Linked DNA regions of Homo sapiens: region 1 is reported to be linked to region 2. Evidence: microRNA targets listed by miRTarBase, many of them from high-throughput screens and not tested one by one. Region 2 holds a microRNA gene; the other region holds the end of a gene's coding sequence.
Evidence for each region. The annotated mature microRNA hsa-miR-3126-5p reads UGAGGGACAGAUGCCAGAAGCA and lies in region 2 at 3,113-3,134, opposite strand. An mRNA with a match to its seed (bases 2 to 7 or 8) in the 3' UTR can be bound and repressed. Matches are read on the target gene's strand: a 7mer-m8 pairs with bases 2 to 8, a 7mer-A1 pairs with bases 2 to 7 and ends in A, and an 8mer does both.

Region 1: the mRNA of GABRQ is a reported target of hsa-miR-3126-5p. Seed matches in the 3' UTR shown: 7mer-A1 at 1,831-1,837 and 7mer-m8 at 2,353-2,359.

What each region holds. Positions count from the first base shown.
Region 1 is chrX:152,652,969-152,657,968 of GRCh38, forward strand. GABRQ (gamma-aminobutyric acid type A receptor subunit theta) reads left to right here. Exons shown (of 9, transcript NM_018558.4): 9 at 1-4,574. The coding sequence ends at 313. All of the region lies in intron 2 of MAGEA3-DT (MAGEA3 divergent transcript), which reads right to left. Among named protein-coding and RNA genes, the nearest start is that of GABRQ, 18 kb to the left of the region's middle.
Region 2 is chr2:69,101,295-69,106,824 of GRCh38, reverse strand. MIR3126 (microRNA 3126) reads right to left here and starts at 3,143; the gene lies at 3,070-3,143. It overlaps ANTXR1 (ANTXR cell adhesion molecule 1), which reads right to left. Exons shown (of 18, transcript NM_032208.3): 10 at 3,885-3,983.

The DNA of each region.
Region 1 (5,000 bases), not on the chromosome of region 2:
AGCAGGCTGGGACCTTGATGACAACAATGACAAGAGCGACTGCCTTGCCATTAAGGAGCAATTCAAGTGTGATACTAACAGTACCTGGGGCCTTAATGATGATGAGCTCATGGCCCATGGCCAAGAGAAGGACAGTAGCTCAGAGTCTGAGGATAGTTGCCCCCCAAGCCCTGGGTGCTCCTTCACTGAAGGGTTCTCCTTCGATCTCTTTAATCCTGACTACGTCCCAAAGGTCGACAAGTGGTCCCGGTTCCTCTTCCCTCTGGCCTTTGGGTTGTTCAACATTGTTTACTGGGTATACCATATGTATTAGTCCCCCAGTGCTCCAGAACAGCGGGAGCACTGTGCTGTGCTCCTTTCAGTTTCTTTTGGGTTTGTTTTTCCCTCTTTCCTTTGTTCCTTTTATTTTGTGGTTATTTGGGCAATCCAATAAGTTCATACTTCTCTTTATAAACATGAGGTGGGGAGTAATTGGAAAGAACATGTTCTAGCTGGAAGGGAAGGGATTGAGGAGGAGTTGGAGGTATACAGCACATGGATTTCCTTTCCTGCTAGAAGACTCTCACCTTTTCAAAGACTTGTAACAAGGAATAAGCATAGAAAAGCCCCTGGAAATGTTTAGAGGACAGAGAAGAGCCAGGTTGGGGGATGGGGCAAGGATCTGGGCCTTTTGCCCACAAACATTTCTGGGGGGCTTTTCTGTCCCCCTTGAGGTGTCAACATTTCTTTTTCATTACATGTTTTCTTCTTTTTTTGTTTCCTCCTAGGGATTATGGGTCTTGTTCACCCTCTGCTTAGGGCTTTATAGAAGAAAGTCAAGCTGGGTTGGGCTGGGGTTCATAGCTAAAGGGCTAGCCATGGCTTAGAAGTTCAGGGAACTTCCTATAGGAAACTTAGGGAGCATTTGTAAGTGCCTTTCCCCCACTGTATGGCATTTGACTGTGGTGTTTTGATGCAAGCGTGGAAGGGGAATGTGGGTGGATGGGGCTGCAGAGTGAGACATCAGGGTGAGAGAGCACATACTCAGCTTGTGGGGTTGGCAGAGGGTGGGGGGTGATGTCAGGTTGGAAATTACACAGTTGAGCTGGCCTCTTCGGAGGGATTGGAACTTGCCTATATTTCTGCTTCAGAACGCTTGGCAATAGAGACTCAATACATCTGTCTAAGTCAGGAGTTAGCTTTCCGTCAGTTGCTGAGTTGATCACCAGTTACAGCACTTGGTGAATAAGCACTAAGGTTAGGATAATTCACACTTGCTATTTTACCATCTGATCTAGACTAGCAGATGAATATCTATCGTAAGTCTATATACTAATCCTTTCTATTTGTCTAGTGCATAGTAAGTGTCAACAAGCTCCCTGACCCATTACATCACTGGAGCCTCACAGGAGCCCTGTAAGCCAGGGAAGGCAAAGCACATTGTCCCCAGTGTTCCAAGGAAAACGAATGGAGCTTATGCCGCATGCTTGAGGACATGCAGCCAGTGAGTGGTAGATCCACCCCACTTGCTCTTTCTTGTCTTTTTCCTCCTGACTGTCCCAACTGAGGCATTTCCTTTTCTTCCCTCCCTAAAGAGGGTGCTCCAGAGGGCCCCCACCACATCCTCTAGCACCTGGGGCATCTCTGCAGGAATAGGCTGGTGACCAGCCAATGAGCGTGACGTGAGCAGATGGAGAACACACTCTGCCCACTGAGCAGGGCCCCTAACGGAAGTAGGATTGGCCAGCATTCCAACTTGCCAAGCAGCTCCACCTCACTGATGGAGGTTGTGAGGGAGTGAACTTTGCCGAGCACTCAACATATGCCACCTCTTCCTCCCTATGCAGTCTCTCCCTCAGTCCCTTACCCCTCTACCCACTCACCCTTTAACTGTGCTTCTGTGTTTGTGTTTCTGTATATACCTGGGTGTATGCATATGCAGCAGGGTGGGTGTATGTACATATACAACCATTTGAGAAGCTGCATAGTGCCGTGTCTAGTGGTGTAAATCTACATTGGTGTGTACAGAATTGTATCTACAGCATGTGGATGCATGCGTGTGTGTGCACATCCCTGTGAAAGTGTGGCTTATGTATGTGTATGCTTGTGTACACATGGGTCTATGCTGAGTGCATGTATATAAGGGCATGTCTGCATATCTATGTTTATCTGATTTGAATGGGTGTGAAAGGAAATACCCCTGAAAGCATATGTATTCCCTGTTGGTGACCCTTCTAGAACCACTATAATTCCCTTGGCCTGCTCCCATATGGTGGAGGGGCCCTATTTGGCCGGGCTGCTTAACTGACTGTTTCTTTCCAACTTCCTGTTCCAGGGAGCAGCATCTCCCAGTTCCCTTCCACTGTTTGCCCTGTCCCTCCATCCATCTGTGCTGTCTCCTAGATAGAAGACTGGGGAAGTGAATGTAGTCCTAAGAAGTGGTGAGCTAGTGCCTTGAGGTAGGAAGTGGTTAATCCATGGAAGAAGCTGCAAGTACAGAGCATTTCACTTTGTCCTAGAGGAACATGTTTCGGGGTAACAGGCTGGGGAGTGAGGCTGAAAGAGGCATTGAGAATAGACACTTGTACAGTCACATACACATACACACACACAAATCTTGTACGACAGTTGAAAACAAGAAAGTTACCACTGGAAGAGCTAAAATTGCCTCTTTATTTTTGGATACCCCATACAGAGATTCAGGTGGAGGGGAGAGCAGTGACTCCATGTCTGAAGCTCCCAATGTGGCTATTGAAAGGCTGGCTTCCTGGAGCCTAAGCATTGGTTGGTTGACGTGGATTTGGGTCTCCAGCACCCTGGAGGTGCTTTCAACCCTGTGGTGGCAAGCAGTTCATTTGGGATAAAGTCATAAAGGGAGATTGGAGCAGTGTGAAGAAAAGGAGGGTTTTAAGATTTGTCTGGAAGCAATGCACATGAAGGCTTCACAGCACAGAGGAAGGGCAGCGAGGCCAGTTGTAAATATCTCTATAGATCCATATAGCTAGATATAATACTATACCTTAAAAAGGATATCTTGCCCTGACGTGCTGCAATGAGAGCAGTTGAACTCTACTGCGACTCATACTCTGTAGGTTAAGTGTCAAAATGAGGTGGAGATTTGGCAGTGACACCCTTTCGGGAACGTGAACCTTCTGAGTTTGCTATGGATTTGGTCATTTTAGCCTGCACGTTGCCAGATCTCCCCTTGTTGAGTCTTGTATGTGGTCTGTCCTCTGTGTCATTTGAGTCCTCAGCTGTCCCCAACCCCTTCCCAGCCCCTCCCCAGCCTGCAGTCACCCCCTGTCCAGCAAGCTGCCTCCATCCCATCCCTCTCCTCACCTCACACCAGGTAACTCTGGAAGTGCAGAATGCTTGGTAGTTTGGAGCTTGGGCAGCATCTGGGATGCAACAACCCCTATTTTACTCTTCTACCCACCTTCCATTTCTTTCCTTCCCATCGACTTCCCCGACCCAGGATCCCTTCTTTGCCACTATCATGGGAAGGACACCCCTGTCTGTCTTTCTGAAGTATCATTTTATTGTGGGGATGTGTGACACGTTTCCTACCAAGTTCTTGCCAGTTCCATCTGCCACTGTGGGGTGCCTTTGCACAGGTCATGGACGATCTGCTGGGTCTTACTAGAGCCTGTCAAATGTATTCTTACAATTCATGTCATCTTGTTAATAGCAGGACTTCAAAGTCTTTGCATATTTAGAGCTGAGTTTTGCTGAGACTGTGGCCATTCCTAATGAGGTTTCCTCATTCCATATATATAATAGCTAACCCTTAAAGCCATTAACTAATGAATGCATTTATTAAGCTATCCACTCGCATGGTACCCTGCTGTGGTGATGAGCAGTAACTTTCTAGCTATTCCATAGCCCAACATCAAAGGAAATCGTGACTCGTCCTACTAGAAGTGTAGTGTCTTTGTGTTTGTTGTGTAGTGTCCTGTGATCAATATAAAATCTATATTATCAGTGTTGGGTTTTCAGGGGAGGGAGGGAGAGGATGTTAAAGTCTCTCTTTGATAAACTTAAATTATGAAATAGCCCAGTTGTTCAGGGTCACTTCTATTGACTCAATTTGTGTGAGACTTTGCACTCACTATCTCGCCGGCCGGACTGCATGCCCAGGGTCAGTAGTCAGCAGAGCTAAAGGTGCCCGAATTTAGCACAGCTGGCTGTGGTGCCTGACATAGGGCAGTACCGGGGGATTCTTCAGAGGTCAGCCAAGTCGGTAACATTCTGTGAAGCAGATTAAATACAGTAAAATCAAACAAACGGAGGTCTTTGGAAGTGATGCTGGGCCCAGGCAGTGAAAATCAAGAAAAGAGGAGAAAGACCAAGACCTGGATGTCCTGGACGACCTGACCCAAAAAGGGGCACAAAGCAGCAGAGCTTCACCAGGTGACTGGGTGGCTTCTTTGTCCTCATTAAATGTACATCTTTGCATGAAAAGGACCTTGACTGGTCTGGACTTTAACAAAGTAAAATATGAAGAAACGTAAAATTATGCTTCTGAAAAATATACTGAAATAAAATTTTGTAAATAGCTAAAAGAAAAATAAATAAATATAATAACAAGTACTCTACCAGGTCATCGTGTTTCCTCTCTGTTGGATTAGAAGATATTGAGCAGGACAGCTGTCTGGGCCCAGGAAACCTCTGGCTTCCATCACTCACTTCCCATGGCCTTCCCACCGCTTTTCACATAGACCTCTTCATACCCCAGGACAGTGGAAGCCATGGTTTTCAAGCCGAGGGGAATTAGCAACAGCACAGTTTAAATTAGTTTTGATTTTTGCAGAAGCCATTCTTAATCTTCTAAAACAAAACTTTTAAAACAGAACAGGCCACTGTGGTGCCAAAATACAAGGTAGAAGTTTCGTTCAATTTTATAGGGGGAGAGCCCCGACTTGAGCCCGCAAGTCAAGGCTGCAGTAAGCCATAATCGTGCCACTGCACTCCAGCCTGGGAAACAGAGCAAGACTGTCTCAAAACAAAACAAAAGGGTTGGA
Region 2 (5,530 bases):
GTCATTTTGTGCCATCAGCCCACCTTTAGGGGGTTGTTTGCTGCAGGCATGCTGTGGGGCTGGGCTATGTGGAAGACTCCCACAGGGTGAAGGTGCATGGCCTCTGTAGGGCCACAGAGATCAGGAAGATCACGGACACATTTTGGGGCTAGTTTCTTGACTTGGTGCTTCTGTATCACATGGGTGGTGTAACATCATTACACCTGTGGATTTTCATCCCCTGCCTGCTTCCTTGCCCAATTAAATGATTGGTGTATCCTGCTGGAGCCTGATTTCTGCAGGGGGCTCTGTTTTTGTGTGATGCCTTGGCACAGACCTGAGATCTGGTGTCCTGTATCTGCATCAGCATCGGGGTCACAGCCCGCAGCCTGGCCTGGAGCCCCTGTGACTTTGTTTCTTACTTAGGTTTTTATTCCCATTTTGTTTCCTATACTTGGAGATTCCCACTTCTTTCCTTTGAGTGAGGCCACACAATGTAATTTTAAAAATCATATTTCATCCAGATTTTTGGATCTATTTTGTTGACCACAAATCTAGAAACTGTCTTGGATTTCTAAGTGGTTGATTTTTTAAGCAAATGCAAGGAAATTGGGAGAGAAGCATGTATTAACCTATCTTCTGGTTATGCTTATCATCTAAGAATGTGTCTAAACAATTTCTACTTTTGGCATTAATATATTGGCATTTTATCCATGTCTTAGCATGATCAATTTGCAAAGTTGTTCACAGTCATTTAAAAAAGTATTATATGCCCTACCTATATCTTTAGAGCATAAAGATATATGCTCTATATCTCTAACTTTTAAATTAAGTTTTAAGACTTGAAAAATCATATTAATATCTCCCACTATCCATATCATTTTTAATTTGTTCTTTTGACAGATTTTGCTTCATATAGCTTGCTATTGCATTATTTGCTGAAGATCCTGAGGTCTGCCTCATGTTTGAAGTGGCTAGAGCCACACAGCCTTAGCTTCATTATTGGGCCTTCAATTAAGTCTTTCTCATTAATAATGGCACTTATGTTCTCTTTTTGTCACAAATTCCAATGCAGCACTTAGGAAAAAAAATCTTGAAAAAAGAAATATGTGATATAAAAATAAAAACAGATAACATTTTAAAACTTGGGGTATAGAGGTGGGGAAGGAAAATGGGAAAGGTAAAGGAATCTAAGTGTATTTTATTTTACAGGGAGGAATCAGTAGAAACTATGACATTTATAAAGTTGACAGAAAAATGTAGATCTAAACGTGCTGCATTTTAGAATTTGTTCATCTTTTCTACCTCCACAGGTTCTTGTTCATATTATTTTCTCCATGGAAATGAACAGGTGAATTACTAACTAAAGGCCAAGTGTTTTCCTCAAACGCTATTTTTCCCCTTAGAATATTTTTAATAGCTGTATGCTTGAGTTTTGGGGTGTTGCTTGCAGCATAGAATATGATCAAATCACTGCCTTCATCTTCTCCAAACTTAGTATTGTGCTAAAGGCACGGGTTTGTGATTTAAGCCAAATCCCTACCCCAACAACCTCCATTTCTTTTTGAATATGAATGAGGTGACAAGCCTGTGCATATGTTTGCAACTATATATTAGGAAAGGAAGAAAGGAGAGAGAGGGATGGACTGGTTTCCCAAGAAAGAAATAAAATTTCCCAAAGAAGTTGGAAAATAGGCCTTCGAGTACTCACTTGACAAATCCATAGTGAGTTTGCATTTCATCTTCTTCCTATTATTATTTGGATGGGGTCTCACTCTGTCACCCAGGCTGGAGTGCAGTGGCATGATCTCAGTTCACTGCAACCTCTGCCTCCTGGCCTCAAGTGATCCTTCAGCCTCAGGCTCCAGAGTAGCTGGGGACCACAGGTGTGCACCACCACGCCCAGTTAATTTTTTGTATTTTTGGTAGAGACAAGGTTTCACCATGTTGCCCAGGCTGGTCTCGAACTCCTGAGCTCAGGCCATACACCCACCTCAGCCTCCCAAAGTGCTGGGATTACAGGCGTGAGCCACCGTGCCTGGCCACATCTTATTTAATACAGCATCTTGTGTAACCTTTGAGCAACGGCACATAGGGTAGATTCTCTCTCTCCCCAGCCCACTTCCATGTATCTTCAGAGAGCTTGGGCCTGAAAGCCTGCTTGTTTGGGAAGTCTTCTTTGGAAGGTATTGATGTCTTTGAGTTAAACCTTCAGGAGTTTCTGATGTTAGACTTGGGATTTTGGTTAAAGAGAAAAGGGGGACTTAAGTGACATCACAATTGACAGGGAGAAAAAAGAAAGAACTCTGCTGGGGGCACACGTCCAACTTTCACACTGTGACTACTCAGGGATATTTCAGAATGTTTTCAAATAGCACGTACTTTTTGGATCTGTGAGAGCATTTCCAAATATTAAGAAAACTAACCGAATGTTTCTAATGTTTGGAATTACTCCAAGGCCAGGAATTCCAGATGTTTGTGAGGAAGACACAGCATGTGTCTGTTTAACTACTAAAGTGGGTTTTATGATGTCAAGAAGGAAATATCCATAGCCCTTCAATTCTTCTTCTTTAAAAACAAGATAACCTCCTTCAAAAGGCTATGAGGAGCTGGGTGTGGTGGCTCACACCTGTAATCCCAGCACTTTGGGAAGCCGAGGCGGGTGGATCATGTGAGGTCAGGAGTTCGAGACCAGCCTGGCCAACATGATGAAACCCATCTCTACTAAAAATACAAAAAATTAGCTGGGTGTAGTGATGCACACCTGTAATCCTAGCTACTCAGGAGGCTGAGGCAGGAGAATCGCTTCAACTTGGGAGGCGGAGGTTGCAGTGAGCTGAGATCGTGCCATTGTACTCCAGCCTGGACAACAGAAGCAAAACTCAGTCTCCAAAAAAAAAAAAAAAATAGGCTATCAGGAGGAGAAAACTAGTGTGAGTGATTAGTCAACAAATGTGTGTCCTCCTGTCCTCCTTGCTCTCTTTACCTCTCAGGGCTGTTGTAGCAAAAAGATGTGAAGCATTTAGAAGGTACATAGCATTACAGAAAATGCAGTATATTATGACAGTTATCACTGCAGATGTGGAATAAATAATTATCTGTGTGACGGATGCCAGATGCAAATCATAACCAGTGCTTCTGGCATCTGTCCCTCATATAATCATCTTCCCCATCTCTCCTGGTCAACCACATGAATCACGTACATCTTTAAATTAGGAACTTGACTGCTACAAATGTCTTGTGAAGAAGCCAATGTTATGATAATTCATTTTTTCTCATGAAATGCACTTAGTTTTACTCCATATTCCTGTATTTCATGTAAGATATTCACCACGATGAGAGTTTCTTGGCTACTCCACGCAAGAATCATCCAGATTGAAAAAAGCTGCAGAATCTACATGTGCAAGCCTAATGGTTTGGTTTTCGGTTTATTCAAGATTAATGCATTTAGACCATTCCTTTTTCACACTTACCCTTAAGAGTCCCAATACTTTGTTAAGGAGGCTCATGTTTCTGCAGTCCTAATTAACCATCACCAGCACTCCCACCTGAGAGTGAGCCACTCGGTAGATGGCAGGGGACAAGGAAACCAGTGCCCCGCTGCTTCCGGAGGGCTGCTGCAGGGCTGGGGCTTGTGGCTCTGTGTTTTGTGGAGGACGGGGACTCAAGTCCAGCCTTGCTCTGCTTACCAAGCTGGACACCCATGGGGCTGTGCCCACCCAAGTGGTGCCTTTTCTGACTGGAACCACTGTAAGGGCTCACTATGCCCTTGCTGGGGGTCTTTCCAGCAAATAAGACTCTTTTCTGCTGGTTTCATGTGTGTGGCCTTGCTGGAAGACAAGGGTGGGAATTCCCTTCCTTGAAGCCACTTGTCGAAGAAACCCATGGACTCTGCAAGGACTTACTGAGTGTGACCGAGTCATTGATCTTGAAGCTGCAGAGGACCCTGTCCACGTTGCGGGCATGTCGGAAGCCGTTTCCTCTCACGACAACTTGAAATGACTCTGAAATAAAGAATAATGACGAGACTCGTTACTTGGCCAATAACCTTAAGCTTCGCATCTGCCCTGATTTAGAGCATTTGTTCACTATTTCACCAGGCTTAAAATATTCAAAAATTAATTTAGGTTGAACACCAAAAGCAACCAGGTGGGTTCCTTTCACTACTTACCAGTGCATCCTCACTAGGTGTCCCAAGAAGGGCCTATCACTTCTTATTTGAATTCCCACCCTTTTACCTTTGGGCTTACTGGTCCTCCTAACGCAGAACACCTTCCTCCCTCCTCTCTGTCCATTCAAATCTTAGCCAGTTTTCAAATCCAGGCAGTTTGAAAATCTGTGATCTCAGTAGCCGGAGGGAGCCACAGGGGAGGGGTCCTCCACTTCCTCTTTAATCAACTCACCTCCTCTGTGTCTGTTTTGCACATTGTACTCCCCTGAAAGGATTTCTTAAGAGCCCACGGTGCCTACATTTTAGAAAGTCACTGCCTTAGGGCATTCACAGCTAGTCCTGAACAATGTAGGACTGTCATTATGTATGGTCTGGTGGTGTTCTCTTGTCTTTTCTTCCCCAGCTGGAGAAACATTCCTTTAGGTCAGGAGTTGTTTGATACCACTATGGCATTCCTATCTCTACTGGGCACACAGTAACAGTACATAGGCTAGGTAGGAATAATTGTACTTAGGAATGAATCAAAGTCTTTCTTAGCAGTGGTCAGTTGCCAAGCACTACCTACTTGAATTGATATCAGCCCCTCAGTGTAGTACTCATTTGTCTCTGCATAGAAGAGATCATATATCTTGCCTGGCCTGCATATTAATTTCTCATTGGCATAATGTATGTTTGATTAATGCACATGAATAAAATCGTTATTAAGTAAAAACAACTCTCCTTTACCATACTCCTACCATGGAAAAAACCCAATAATTAGTTGGCTAAATGTTTGGGAATATTTGCTTAAGTTTGTTGGTATCTAATGGTCAGTGTTCCACTTTATTTCACTTTTATCATCCTTTTGTATCTAAAAATTGGGGCTCGGGATAATGCTATGTGGCATATCACAAGAGAAATAGACTGAAGGTCAGAGGAAAAAATGCAATGTTTGTGAATATGGATCTTACACAGTACATTGCCATCTAAATGTAGACTTGTTGTTGGAGGAATAATGAAATTAGAGAATTAGTATATGGGACTCTCGAAGCTTAATAAATGTCATGAGTATATGCCACCTTCAGTCCCAGGAAACTAATTTAGAGGCCATGTTTGCCAAGACAATAATAACTAATGCTAATTGCTCCCTCAATGTGAGCCAGGCCCTCTGTGAAATATTGTACATGTCTGATGTCATTTAAACCTCACCACAGCCTGGGGAGGTACAGATGAGACAACTGATCTTAGTGAAGTTAAGTAATGTGTCCAAGATCACACAGCTGGTAACTTGTCAGAATCAGAACTGGAATCGAGGTCTGTTAGGCACCAAATGCCATGCCCTTAGAACTCAGCCATTAGCTTCTGAACCACCATGCGAAAAGGGGGACTCACTGCCTTCTG